3 linked regions of the Homo sapiens genome follow. The protein of the gene in region 1 interacts with the protein of each later gene in a biochemical or structural test. Each region holds a gene or a part of one and is shown in the gene's direction. Other genes may lie near its edges. The genes, in order: RNF168, H1-0 and ATF6.

Evidence for each region.
Region 2: the proteins of RNF168 (region 1) and H1-0 form a complex in vitro, tested with the Homo sapiens proteins (one study listed by IntAct).
Region 3: of the proteins of RNF168 (region 1) and ATF6, one has a biochemical effect on the other in vitro, tested with the Homo sapiens proteins (one study listed by BioGRID).

Annotation. Positions count from the first base shown.
Region 1 is NC_000003.12:196,483,121-196,486,870, reverse strand, and holds part of RNF168 (E3 ubiquitin-protein ligase RNF168), read left to right. Parts: intron 1-2,979; coding exon 2,980-3,101; intron 3,102-3,750. UniProt on the Homo sapiens protein: E3 ubiquitin-protein ligase required for accumulation of repair proteins to sites of DNA damage. Acts with UBE2N/UBC13 to amplify the RNF8-dependent histone ubiquitination.
Region 2 is NC_000022.11:37,803,600-37,807,349, forward strand, and holds the start of H1-0 (histone H1.0), read left to right. Parts: upstream 1-1,629; 5' UTR 1,630-1,945; coding exon 1,946-2,530; 3' UTR 2,531-3,750. UniProt on the Homo sapiens protein: Histones H1 are necessary for the condensation of nucleosome chains into higher-order structures. The histones H1.0 are found in cells that are in terminal stages of differentiation or that have low rates of cell division.
Region 3 is NC_000001.11:161,770,499-161,774,248, forward strand, and holds part of ATF6 (cyclic AMP-dependent transcription factor ATF-6 alpha), read left to right. Parts: exon of another isoform or gene 1-2,117; intron 2,118-3,750.

The DNA of each region.
Region 1 (3,750 bases):
TGTCGAGCTCCTGGGCTCAAGCCGTCCATCTGCCTCGGCGTCTCAAAGTGCTGGGTTTGTGGCGTGAGCCACCGCAAGTTGTTTAACAACTTTTTTATATGTAGGAAAGCTATTCAGTGAAGAATGAAAGCTTCCTTTTTCCTTCTTCCACCTCTCCACTCCCGTTCCTTTTCCATTTATATCAGTCTCTATCCCCAAAGGTAACCACTATTAACAGTTTCTTACAACTTTTTTCTTGCCAGGGTGCGATGGCTCGGGCCTGTAATCCCAGTACATTGGGAAGCTGAGGCGAGAGGATCGCTTGAGCCCAGGAGTTTGAGACCAGCCTGGGCAACAAAGTGAGACCCTGTTTCTTCAGAAAAATTAATAATGAGCCGAGTGTGATGGTGCGTGCCTGGAGCTCCACCTGCTGGGAGGGGCTGAGGCAGGAGGATCCCTTGAGCCCAGGAGTTTGAGGTTACAGTGAGCTGATCTCGCCACTGCACTTCAACCTGGAAGACCATCTCAAAAAAAAAAGCTTTTTTTCTTTATTGACCTAAAAAGGATTATATAAAGCAATCACACTGTTTTGCTGCTTACATTTTTTCCACTTGATAACATCGTAGAGATTTTTCATATTACTACATGTAGTCAATCTAATTCTTTTAAAGAGTGGAATAATATTCCATTTTATGGATGTAAATCACATTTTGAAAGTAAGGCACATTAAATTTTTAGATAATGTATTAAACTTGGATGTTCTGCTTCCTGTAGTTAAATTGCTGCCTGTAAGAAAATGAATTAAATGGTGTGTGATAAAACACATACTTTAAGATCAGAGGGTACTGTGGGGCCCAGTGGTTTGAACGAGCCTGGCAGAGTAACCTGGGAATGCTGTTGAAATACAAACTCTCATATTTACTCCAAATCTATTAAGTCAGAGTCTCTAGGGATGGGACCTAGGGAATACAATCTTCAGAGGCATGTAGGGAAGTGTGAAACATTCAGGTTTGAGAGCCTGTGAAAACAATTCTTCAGCTTTCAAACAACGAATATCTTAACATACACTTACCATTGAATCATGGGAAGTTCAATAGAATAAAAAAATATATATGTATATACACTTAGCAAAATGAGTATACGCAGAATTGGGAATTTTTTTCTTTTTTGAGAGGCCTACCATTAATAATAATGTACCCAAATTTTGGGTTATATGCCCCTTTTTATGTGTCTTTTTTAAGTAGAATCGCTTTAGAAATACACAATCAGGAAACTAAATAAAAGTCATTGACCAATGGAATAATAAATGGAATAGGGAAGAAGTATATCTAGTTTTCCCATGGTATTATAAGAGTAGATTTATTGATACTGTAGAATAATTTTTTTAACTTTTTTTTTTTTTGAGACAAGAGTCTCACTCTGTCACCCAGGCTGGAGTGCAGTAGTGCAACCTCAACTCCCGGTTCAAGCGATGCTCCTGCCTCAGCCTCCAGAGTATCTGGGATTACAGGTGCCGCCACCACATCCTGTTAATTTTTGTATTTTTAGTGCCGATGGGGTTTCACCATGTTGGCCAGGCTGGTCTTGAACTCCTGGCCTCATGTGATCCACCCACCTCAGCCTCCCAAAGTGCTGGGATTACAGGCATGAACCACCATGCCCAACCTAGAATAATTTTCTATTTATTTATGAAAGTTTGGTGGTTTAAGGCCAAATATTCACCATCACCATATATGAACTTTTCCATTAGGGTAGTAAGAAACTTACGAGACTGGTACAGCAAGTAAATATTTGTGATTTTTATTAATACGCCCTTAAAGTCCAGAACTAAAATATTATTACATAAAACTATTCTTTTGGGTATATCCACAGCTCTCTGAATATGTCCATATAGATAAAAGTAATTATATAAAAGTATTTATTAGAAAAATCAACAGGCTGGGCACAGTGGCACAGACCTATAATCCGAACACTTTGGAAGGCTGTGGTGGGGGAATCACTTGATTCCAATAGTTGGAGACCAGCCTGGGCAACATAGTGAGACCTCATCTTTACAAAGCATTTAAAAAAAAGTAGCTGGGCATGGTGGCACATGCCTGTGTCCTAGCTACTCGAGAAGCTAAGATGGGAGGATTGCCTGAGCCCAGGAGGTTGAGGCTACAGTGAGCTATGATCACTCCACTGCAGTCCAGCCTGGATGACAGAGCAAGACTCTGTCTCAAAATAAAACAAAAACAACCCACCTAACCAAGCCTGGTGGCTCATGCCTGTAGTCCTAGCTACTTGGGAGGTGAAGGTGGGAGGATCACTTGAACCTGGGAGGTCAAGGTTGCAAGGAGCCATGATTGCTACACTGCACTCCAGCCTCGGCGACAGAGTGAGACCCTGTCTTAAAAAAAAAAAAAAAAAAAAAAAAAAGGCCGGGCGCGGTGCCTCATGCCTGTAATCCCAGCACTTTGGGAGGCCGAGGCAGGCAGATCATGAGGTCAGGAAATCGAGACCATCCTGGCTAACACAGTGAAACCCCATCTCTACTAAAAAAAATACAAAAAATTAGCCGGGCATGGTGGAGGGCGCCGGTAGTCCCAGCTACTCAGGAGGCTGAGGCAGGAGAATGGCATGAACCTGCGGGGGTGGAGCTTGCAGTGAGCCGAGATCGCGCCACTGCACTCCAGCCTGGGCAACAGAGCGAGACTGCGTCTCAAAAAAAAAAAAAAAAAGGAAAGAAAGATCAACAGGAATTATCAGCTAATGAGGTTAGTATTATGCCTTATTTTGTGCTTGATGTACAGTAAAAATGTAATTAATTTAGACCAACTTGGATGAACATAGTTTATTCTGATTTTTGCATGGTCAATATTCTTCAAGAGATGTACAGAATTTAAATATAACTATAATTTCTGAAAAATGCTATGGATTTCTGAATTAGTCAAATTAATAGCTTATTTTATCATAAAGTTCTCTCTCATAATGTCTGTTATGCTTTTTCTATTGTTGAAGAACAATTTCTGTGAGGGAAGTATCTCGGCTTCTCCCTTGAATTCCAGAAAATCTGATCCAGTTACACCCAAGTCTGAAAAGAAAAGTAAGAACAAACAAAGAAACACTGGAGATATTCAGAAGTAAGTGAACATGACTATGAATTATTTGTTGACCTCCTACTGTATGCCAGTGTTTTCTGTTCATATAGACTACTACTGATTCTCAAAGTTTGGTCCGTGAACTTTGTATGAAAATAGTCTGAGGTTGAGGTAAATTGAAAAGGAGAGAGCTACTCACACAGCTTCCTCTTGGCTTCTCACTCAGCCACTTACTGTGGCAGATTCATACTTTTATCTTACTGCCTCAGGATTTCCAGTTTTCTCAAAGTGAACCATTGGATTCCTCTTTCTCTTGGTTTAAATTCAGATGAAAAAAATGGGTCCCAGATAGGCTTATCTTCACTGAAAGAGTTTACAATTTGTCATTTCTTCTCTATTACACAAAATGCATGAGTCAGGTAGACAAAGGTGGCGTGATTGAGTTTCACCACAACACCCCTCCAGGGTCAGGTGCCAGGTGGAGTTGGTGGCTTTACGCAAACATCAGCTTTCCCATGGTAACTCACAGTTGGAAAAGTTTAAAAACCACAGTCTAGACTTGAAAAATACATAAGGACTTCTGGTTCAACTGAGGAAATATGTGCAGGTAACTCATCTCCTTCCAAGATTTGTTGAAATTTTGTATTTGAGGTGGGAGGAAGCTTAGGAGAAGAGAATGTTAAATGAGGGA
Region 2 (3,750 bases), on another chromosome or scaffold:
CCCAACATCAAAACCCTCGAACCCCTCCCCTTTACCCCTCCCCAGTAGCCCACTGTGTCTGCAAACAGCTCTTGGACCATACCGGGATGCGTTCATCATTTTGACCAGCAACAAACTCCCACTCCCAGGGTATTGTTTAAGTGAACAGTGACCGGCCTCTATGCTTAGGGAATAAAAGCGGGGTTGTGGGAGAGGGGCCCAGGGAGCAAACGTCGCAGAATCTCAGCCCAGGGCCGCTGCCAAGCGGACCCGGCACGTGAGTAGGAGGTCGGCCGCAGACAAGGGGTCCTAGGGTCTCTGAGGTCTCTCCTGCTGGCCTCTGGGCCCCTAAAGCCCCTCGAGCTTCAGAACTCCCTACAGACAGTGGCGCCCCGTGTCCGCCTCGTCTACACCTGCCAAGCAGCACGGGAAAATCTGTGTGCATTTTAACAAAGACATCGCATCTTCCCAGCAAAATGGCGGTGGTCGCGGCCACGGCTCTCTAAACAACTCCACACTTTCCGAGGACAGGTCACAACCCAAGGGACATAACCCCCTCCTCGACCTCTACCCTAGCGCCCCGCTTTCCCAAGTCCCCAAAGCACTCAGGGCCTCTCCTCATTACAGGGGCCCCCCGGACCGTCCCTGGTTAGAGCTTCTGGGGCAGCTTCTCCATTGTGGACCGCCCTCCCCCGCCCCCACATTGCCTTCAAGGAGCCTTGGGACGGGGACTGAACCCCCAGGCTGGGCCTCACGGATGGGGGGCAGCGAGTTCTGTCTCTGACACCCCAAAACTTCCAGGCTAAGAGAAGCACACAAATGAATTCCCGATTAGGGTATATGGGAGATGTAGGGGTCTTTGAGGAGAAGAGGCCACCCGGGAGGCCCTCCTCATCTCTCAGAGGGTCCGGGCAGCACTGGGGGTTCGGCCTCAGGAGGGAACCTCAAGGCAGAGGTCGGGGGGCGCGCTGGGGGAGAGACGGCAGAGGAGGGGGAAGGGACAAAGTTTGAAAGTACCCTTCCAACTCTTTCAGGGAAAGTTTCCTTGGGGGCCCCATGGACAGAGGGGGTAGAGGTGTGGAGGGACCGGTGGCGGGGTGACCCCCGAGAGGTGACCGGACCCCGGGGGAGCGACCCCTCCCCCCTGTCCCGGCTCGGCCCGGCTGGGAGTCGCCCAGCTCGGGGCCGCGTGTGTTAGTTGGGGCCGCTTTCCGGCAGCTCCACCGGGCTAGGGGACCCCGCAGCGGGCCGGGAGCAGAGCCCCCGGTAGCCTCAGGGGAGAGCTTTGCTACGGGGGGTTTCCCGCACCGAGGCTCCCTAGCCCCGCAGAGCCAGCCCCCCGCAAAGGGGAAATGTGCCGGCACACCAGCGGTCCTCGGCGCCGTTTGGGGTGCGTGGCGGGCGCGGGGGGCGGCGGCCGGGCCAGCGGGCCGCCCGGCGGGGAAGCCCAGGGAGCCAGGCAGCGGCCCAGGGCGGCGGCGGGGAGCAGGAAGGCCCGGGCCGGGGGGAAAGGTCGGATTTGCTCGGCGGAAGAAACACAGATGGCGGCGGCGCAGCGCCATTCCGGGCCGGGAGCAGGCAGCCAGCAGCCCTGTCCTCACCGCGGTCCGCCCGCCGCCGCTAAATACCCGGATGCGCCGCCCAAGCGCCAGACGCGGAGCTGGGAAAAGGGAGGCAGAGGAGGCGGAGGCAGAGGCAGAGGCAGAGGCAGAGCCCGAGCCCGGTGCCGAGACCAAGCGACAGACCGGCGGGGCTGGGCCTCGCAAAGCCGGCTCGGCGAGCTCTCCCGACACCCGAGCCGGGGAGGAAAAGCAGCGACTCCTCGCTCGCATCCCCGGGAGCCGCACTCCAGACTGGCCCGGTAGTCAGGGGCTCAGGAGCAGATCCCGAGGCAGGCTTTGCTCAGCCTCCGACGAGGGCTGGCCCTTTGGAAGGCGCCTTCAACAGCCGGACCAGACAGGCCACCATGACCGAGAATTCCACGTCCGCCCCTGCGGCCAAGCCCAAGCGGGCCAAGGCCTCCAAGAAGTCCACAGACCACCCCAAGTATTCAGACATGATCGTGGCTGCCATCCAGGCCGAGAAGAACCGCGCTGGCTCCTCGCGCCAGTCCATTCAGAAGTATATCAAGAGCCACTACAAGGTGGGTGAGAACGCTGACTCGCAGATCAAGTTGTCCATCAAGCGCCTGGTCACCACCGGTGTCCTCAAGCAGACCAAAGGGGTGGGGGCCTCGGGGTCCTTCCGGCTAGCCAAGAGCGACGAACCCAAGAAGTCAGTGGCCTTCAAGAAGACCAAGAAGGAAATCAAGAAGGTAGCCACGCCAAAGAAGGCATCCAAGCCCAAGAAGGCTGCCTCCAAAGCCCCAACCAAGAAACCCAAAGCCACCCCGGTCAAGAAGGCCAAGAAGAAGCTGGCTGCCACGCCCAAGAAAGCCAAAAAACCCAAGACTGTCAAAGCCAAGCCGGTCAAGGCATCCAAGCCCAAAAAGGCCAAACCAGTGAAACCCAAAGCAAAGTCCAGTGCCAAGAGGGCCGGCAAGAAGAAGTGACAATGAAGTCTTTTCTTGCGGACACTCCCTCCTGTCTCCTATTTTCTGTAAATAATTTTCTCCTTTTTTCTCTCTTGATGCTCACCACCACCTTTTGCCCCCTTCTGTTCTGACTTTATAAGAGACAGGATTTGGATTCTTCAGAAATTACAGAATAATTCATTTTTCCTTAACCAGTTGTGCAAGGACAGCAACAACCAATCTAATGATGAGAATGTACTTATATTTTGTTTTGCTATTAACCTACTTACGGGGTTAGGGATTTGCGGGGGGGGCTTGTGTGTTTTGTTGGCTTGTTTGCCATGAAGGTAGATGTGGGTGGGGAGAAGACACAAGGCAGTTTGTTCTGGCTAGATGAGAGGGAACCCAGGAATTGTGAGGTTAGCAGGAATATCTTTAGGGTGAGTGAGTTTTCTTTGAGTTGGGCACCCGTTGTGAGAGTTTCAGAACCTTTGGCCAGCAGGAGAGAGGTGGTAGGGAGCAGCCAGCCGGCAAAGGAAGGAGGGGGAAAAAAACCGCCACCGGGCTGACTTCCACCTCCCAGTGGTGAGCAGTGGGGGCCCAAACCCAGTTTCCTTCTCATTTTTGTTAGTTTGCGCTTTCGGCCTCCCTATTTTCTTAGGGAAGGGGAGTGGGGTCCAAGTGACAGCTGGATGGGAGAAGCCATAGTTTCTCCCAGTCAGCTAGGATGTAGCCATTGGGGGATCTTTGTGGCTTCAGCAAATTCTCTTGTTAAACCGGAGTGAAAACTTCAGGGGAAGGGTGGGGAGTCAGCCAAGTGCCTCAGTGTGCCCTGTTGAAACTTAGGTTTTTCCACGCAATCGATGGATTGTGTCCTAGGAAGACTTTTCTTTTCCTCTGGATTTTTGTTCCTCCTGTACAAGAGGTGTCTTTGCTTGGTTTGGTGGGGCTGCGGCCACTTAAAACCTCCCGATCTCTTTTTGAGTCCTTTATTATAAGTAGTTGTAGCTGCGGGAGGGGGAGGGGGAGTGGGCGGGCAGTGGATAGTAAGACTTACTGCAGTCGATTTGGGATTTGCTAAGTAGTTTTACAGAGCTAGATCTGTGTGCATGTGTGTGTTTGTGTATATATACATATCTAGGGCTAGTACTTAGTTTCACACCCGGGAGCTGGGAGAAAAAACCTGTACAGTTGTCTTTCTCTTATTTTTAATAAAATAGAAAAATCGCGCACTTGCGCGTCCCCCCCCCACCCCCTTT
Region 3 (3,750 bases), on another chromosome or scaffold:
CCTTCTTCTTGTGTCCTCACATGGCACTGAGAGAGAGAATCTTCTTCTTCTTATAAGGCCACAGTCCTATCAGATTAGTGCCCCACTTTAATGACCTCATTTAACTTTAATTACCTCCTAAAGACTGTATCTCTCGATATAGTAATATTTGGGGTTAGGGCTTCAACATACGAATTTTGGAGGACACAGTTTAGGCCATAAATTCACAGTTTGCTTATCCACTTACCTATTGAAGCACATCTTGGTTGCTTCCAACTTTTGGCAATTATATATAAAACTGCTGAAAACATTTGTGTGCAGGTTTTTGTGTGGACATGCATTTTCCAATTGTTTGGGTAAATATCAAGGAGCACAATTGCTGGATTGTGTGGTAAGAACATGTTTTTTGTTTGTTTTGTAAGAAATTGCCAAACTGTCTTCCAAAGTGGCTATACCATTTTGCATTCCCGCTAGCAATGAATGAGCATTTTTGATGCTCCACATCCTTGCTAACATTTGGTGTTGCCAGTACTTTGGATTTTAGTCATTCTAATAGGTGTGTAGTGGTATGTTTTAATTTGCAGTTTCCTGATGACATATGATGTTGAGCATCTTTTCATATGCTTATTTGCCGTCTGTATGTTTTACCCTCCTCTCTCCTTCTCTCTTCTCTTTTACTCTTGCTTGAATTTGTGCAAAAGCTGCTTTATTCTGCTTTCTTCTTTCTTCCCTCCTCCTCCTCCTTTCTCCTTTCTCCTTTTTCCTTCTCTTTATTCTTCTGTCAGCTGTACTTAAGATATGTGTATCAAGATCAGAAGCTTTCGTCTGCCACTGTGGTTTCGTTTATGTCTTCAGTCTCTTCTGTGAAGGTTCTCTTGGCTTTCTAGCACTAAATCAAAATCTGGTGCTCCTGGATGACACAACTTCCCGTAATGCCCCGGTGAACGGTTGCTAATTTTATTCTCAAAACCTTTTCACCATAGGGCCTCTGTTGGTGGGATAGGTGTCTCCATTGTCCTTCACTGCTATTCTCCTTTCCTCCTCCCTAAAAATATCTAAGTTGAAATCTCATTTTGTCACAATATCCCATCCTCTACCTCTCCTGATTCCTGGATCACTCTCTTTCACTTTTCTTTTTTTCTTTTAGAGATGGGGTCTTGTTCTCTTGCCCAGGTTGGAGCTGGAGTATGCGGTGGAGCAATCACAGCTCACTGCATCTTCAGACCCCTGGGGTCAAAGGATCCTCCTGCCTCAGCCTCCCGAGTAGCTGGGACTACAGACACATGCCACCATGCCTGGCTTCTTTTTGGCTTTTTGAAAACATTTTGCCACTAGCTTACTGTTACTTTCTTCACCATTACTTCCATCATGATTCTTGGATGATTTCAGTATCCTTAGAGAAGATCCTTCAGATACACTGACCTGTCATTTTCTGGACCTCCTCTTTATCACTGATCTTACCTTTTACCCAGTCTCAGCCATTTGCTTTCCTGATCATAAGCCTAAGTCTTGTCACTACCAATAACATCTCACTTTCAAACATCCTGCTCTGACTGCCTTCGCCTGTTTTACCAGCTTACTTCCTTTAGTATTCCAGTTTCAATAGTTGTTCAGTCCTTCTGAGATTTTGCCATGTTTCCAGTGTCTCTCATTCTCTTCAGTTCATCACGTCCCTCTTACCCAGTTTAAATACCATGGACAGTCATTGTCACTATTTCCTTCCTTTCACCTTTCATATTCATGTCTGTCTCTTTTCTGGTAGGTTTCTCTTGGATAAACCTATTAGTTAAATTCAGTTTTGCCCACTTCATGCCTGTCCTAGTATAGCTGAATCAGCTGAAGAAAACACTTCAACTGTCCTGACTGGTCTCAATTTAAGTGTTGCCAGACCAATCATATTTCCCTGGTCCTCTCACTGTCCCATTCTGATGATTGCTTTATAAAGTTTCTTCTATCTTCAAACCTCCAACATCTCTCCCATCCTTTGAATCAGAAGAGAACTTCTACAGTCTCCCACTACCTCATTTACCCACCTATCAACATGTTTGCTTTCTCTTTTGTTGGTGAGAATGAGTGGCTTCTTGCTCCTAGCTAGAGCCAGTCCTTCCATATGTGCTTTAGATTCTTCCTGTTTTGTTCAAGAATATTGCTCAAGCTATTCTTCCTCCTGTTTCCTGCATCAGCATTTCCCCTCTCTACTAGATCATCTCTGTCAGTAAATGAACATGTTGTTGTTTCTCCTAGAAGTACTGTTTCTATATCTAGATAGTACTCTAGCTAGAGTTAAAAAAAAAAAAAACAAAACCAACAAACTCAAAACTCTCTTCAGATGTTACTTCACCTCTTGCTGTTACTGCATTTCTCTACTGTATGTTACAGCAGAATTCCTTTTAAAAAATGTCCACGTTCACTGACTCTAGTTTTTTATTTCTCCTTGTCTCTTGAACCCAGTCCAGTCAGGTGCCACCACTCCACTGAAACTCCTGTTTTTTTTTTTTTTTTTTTTTTGAGACAGAGTCTTGCTCTGTTGCCCAGGCTAGAGTGCAATGGCACGATCTTGGCTCACTGTAACCTCCACCTCCTGGATTCAAGCGATTCCCGCCTCAGCTTCCTGAGTAGCTGAGATTACAGGCGCCTGCCACCATGCCCGGCTACTTTTTGTATTTTTTTTTTTTTGAGACGGAGTCTCTCTCTGTTACCCAGGCTGGAGTGCAGTGGCTCACTCGGCTCACTGCAAGCTCCACCTCCCAGGTTCACGCCATTCTTCTGCCTCAGCCTTCCGAGTAGCTGGGACTACAGGCACCTGCTACCACACCTGGCTAAATTTTTTTTTGTATTTTTAGTAGAGACGGGGTTTCACCGTGTTAGCCGGGATGGTCTTGATCTCCTGACCTCATGATCCGCCTGCCCACCTTGGCCTCCCAAAGTGCTGAGATTACAGGCGTCAGCCACTAATTTTTGTATTTTTAGTAGAGATGGGGTTTCACCATGCTGGCCAGGCTGGTCTCAAACTCCCGACCTCATGTGATCCACCCGCCTCGGCCTTCCAAAGTGCTGGGATTACAGGCGTGAGCCATCATGCCTGGCCTGAAACTGCTGTTTTTAAGGGCACTACTGATTTCCACATTGCTAAACCCAGTGACTGTGTCTGATCTTATTAAACTTATAAGGAGTAAATGAATAAATAAATGGGCAAGGTGGAGGTGAGGTGGGAAAGTTTGTTGAGTACACTAAAAATAGTAACTACCATTATTTACTACTGTTGAGGGAAATCTAATAGTGTGGGACTGGTGCAAAGGATATAGAAATAGGCAATAGGTTTTAGGATACTTTGGGGTAACTGATGCTAACAGTTTCTTATGGATTCTTTTGGAATGTTCTATAAATATACGAGTATATTTATCAACCCACCTTCAGTTATTTTTTTAACCACAGAAAAGTCAAAAGATCAGTACACTGATAAACGTGCGTTTTCCTTATCTAGATTTACCAACTGTTAACATCGTGCCACATTCACTTTATATCTTAATATTACCCACACTTTCCTCCTTTTTCACATCTGAAAGTGGGCTGCAGATAATATGAAACTCCTAAACACTTCACCATGTATTTCCTAAGAATGAGGAAATGTTTATTTTTAAAAAGCATCAATTCATTTTAATATGCTTTATACTTCAAAGCTAACATCACAGGGTTCTTTTTCACCTTCTTGCACCATATGCTTGTATTTCTCTTCTGCCGCTATGAGAATCCTGATTCCCAATAACATCC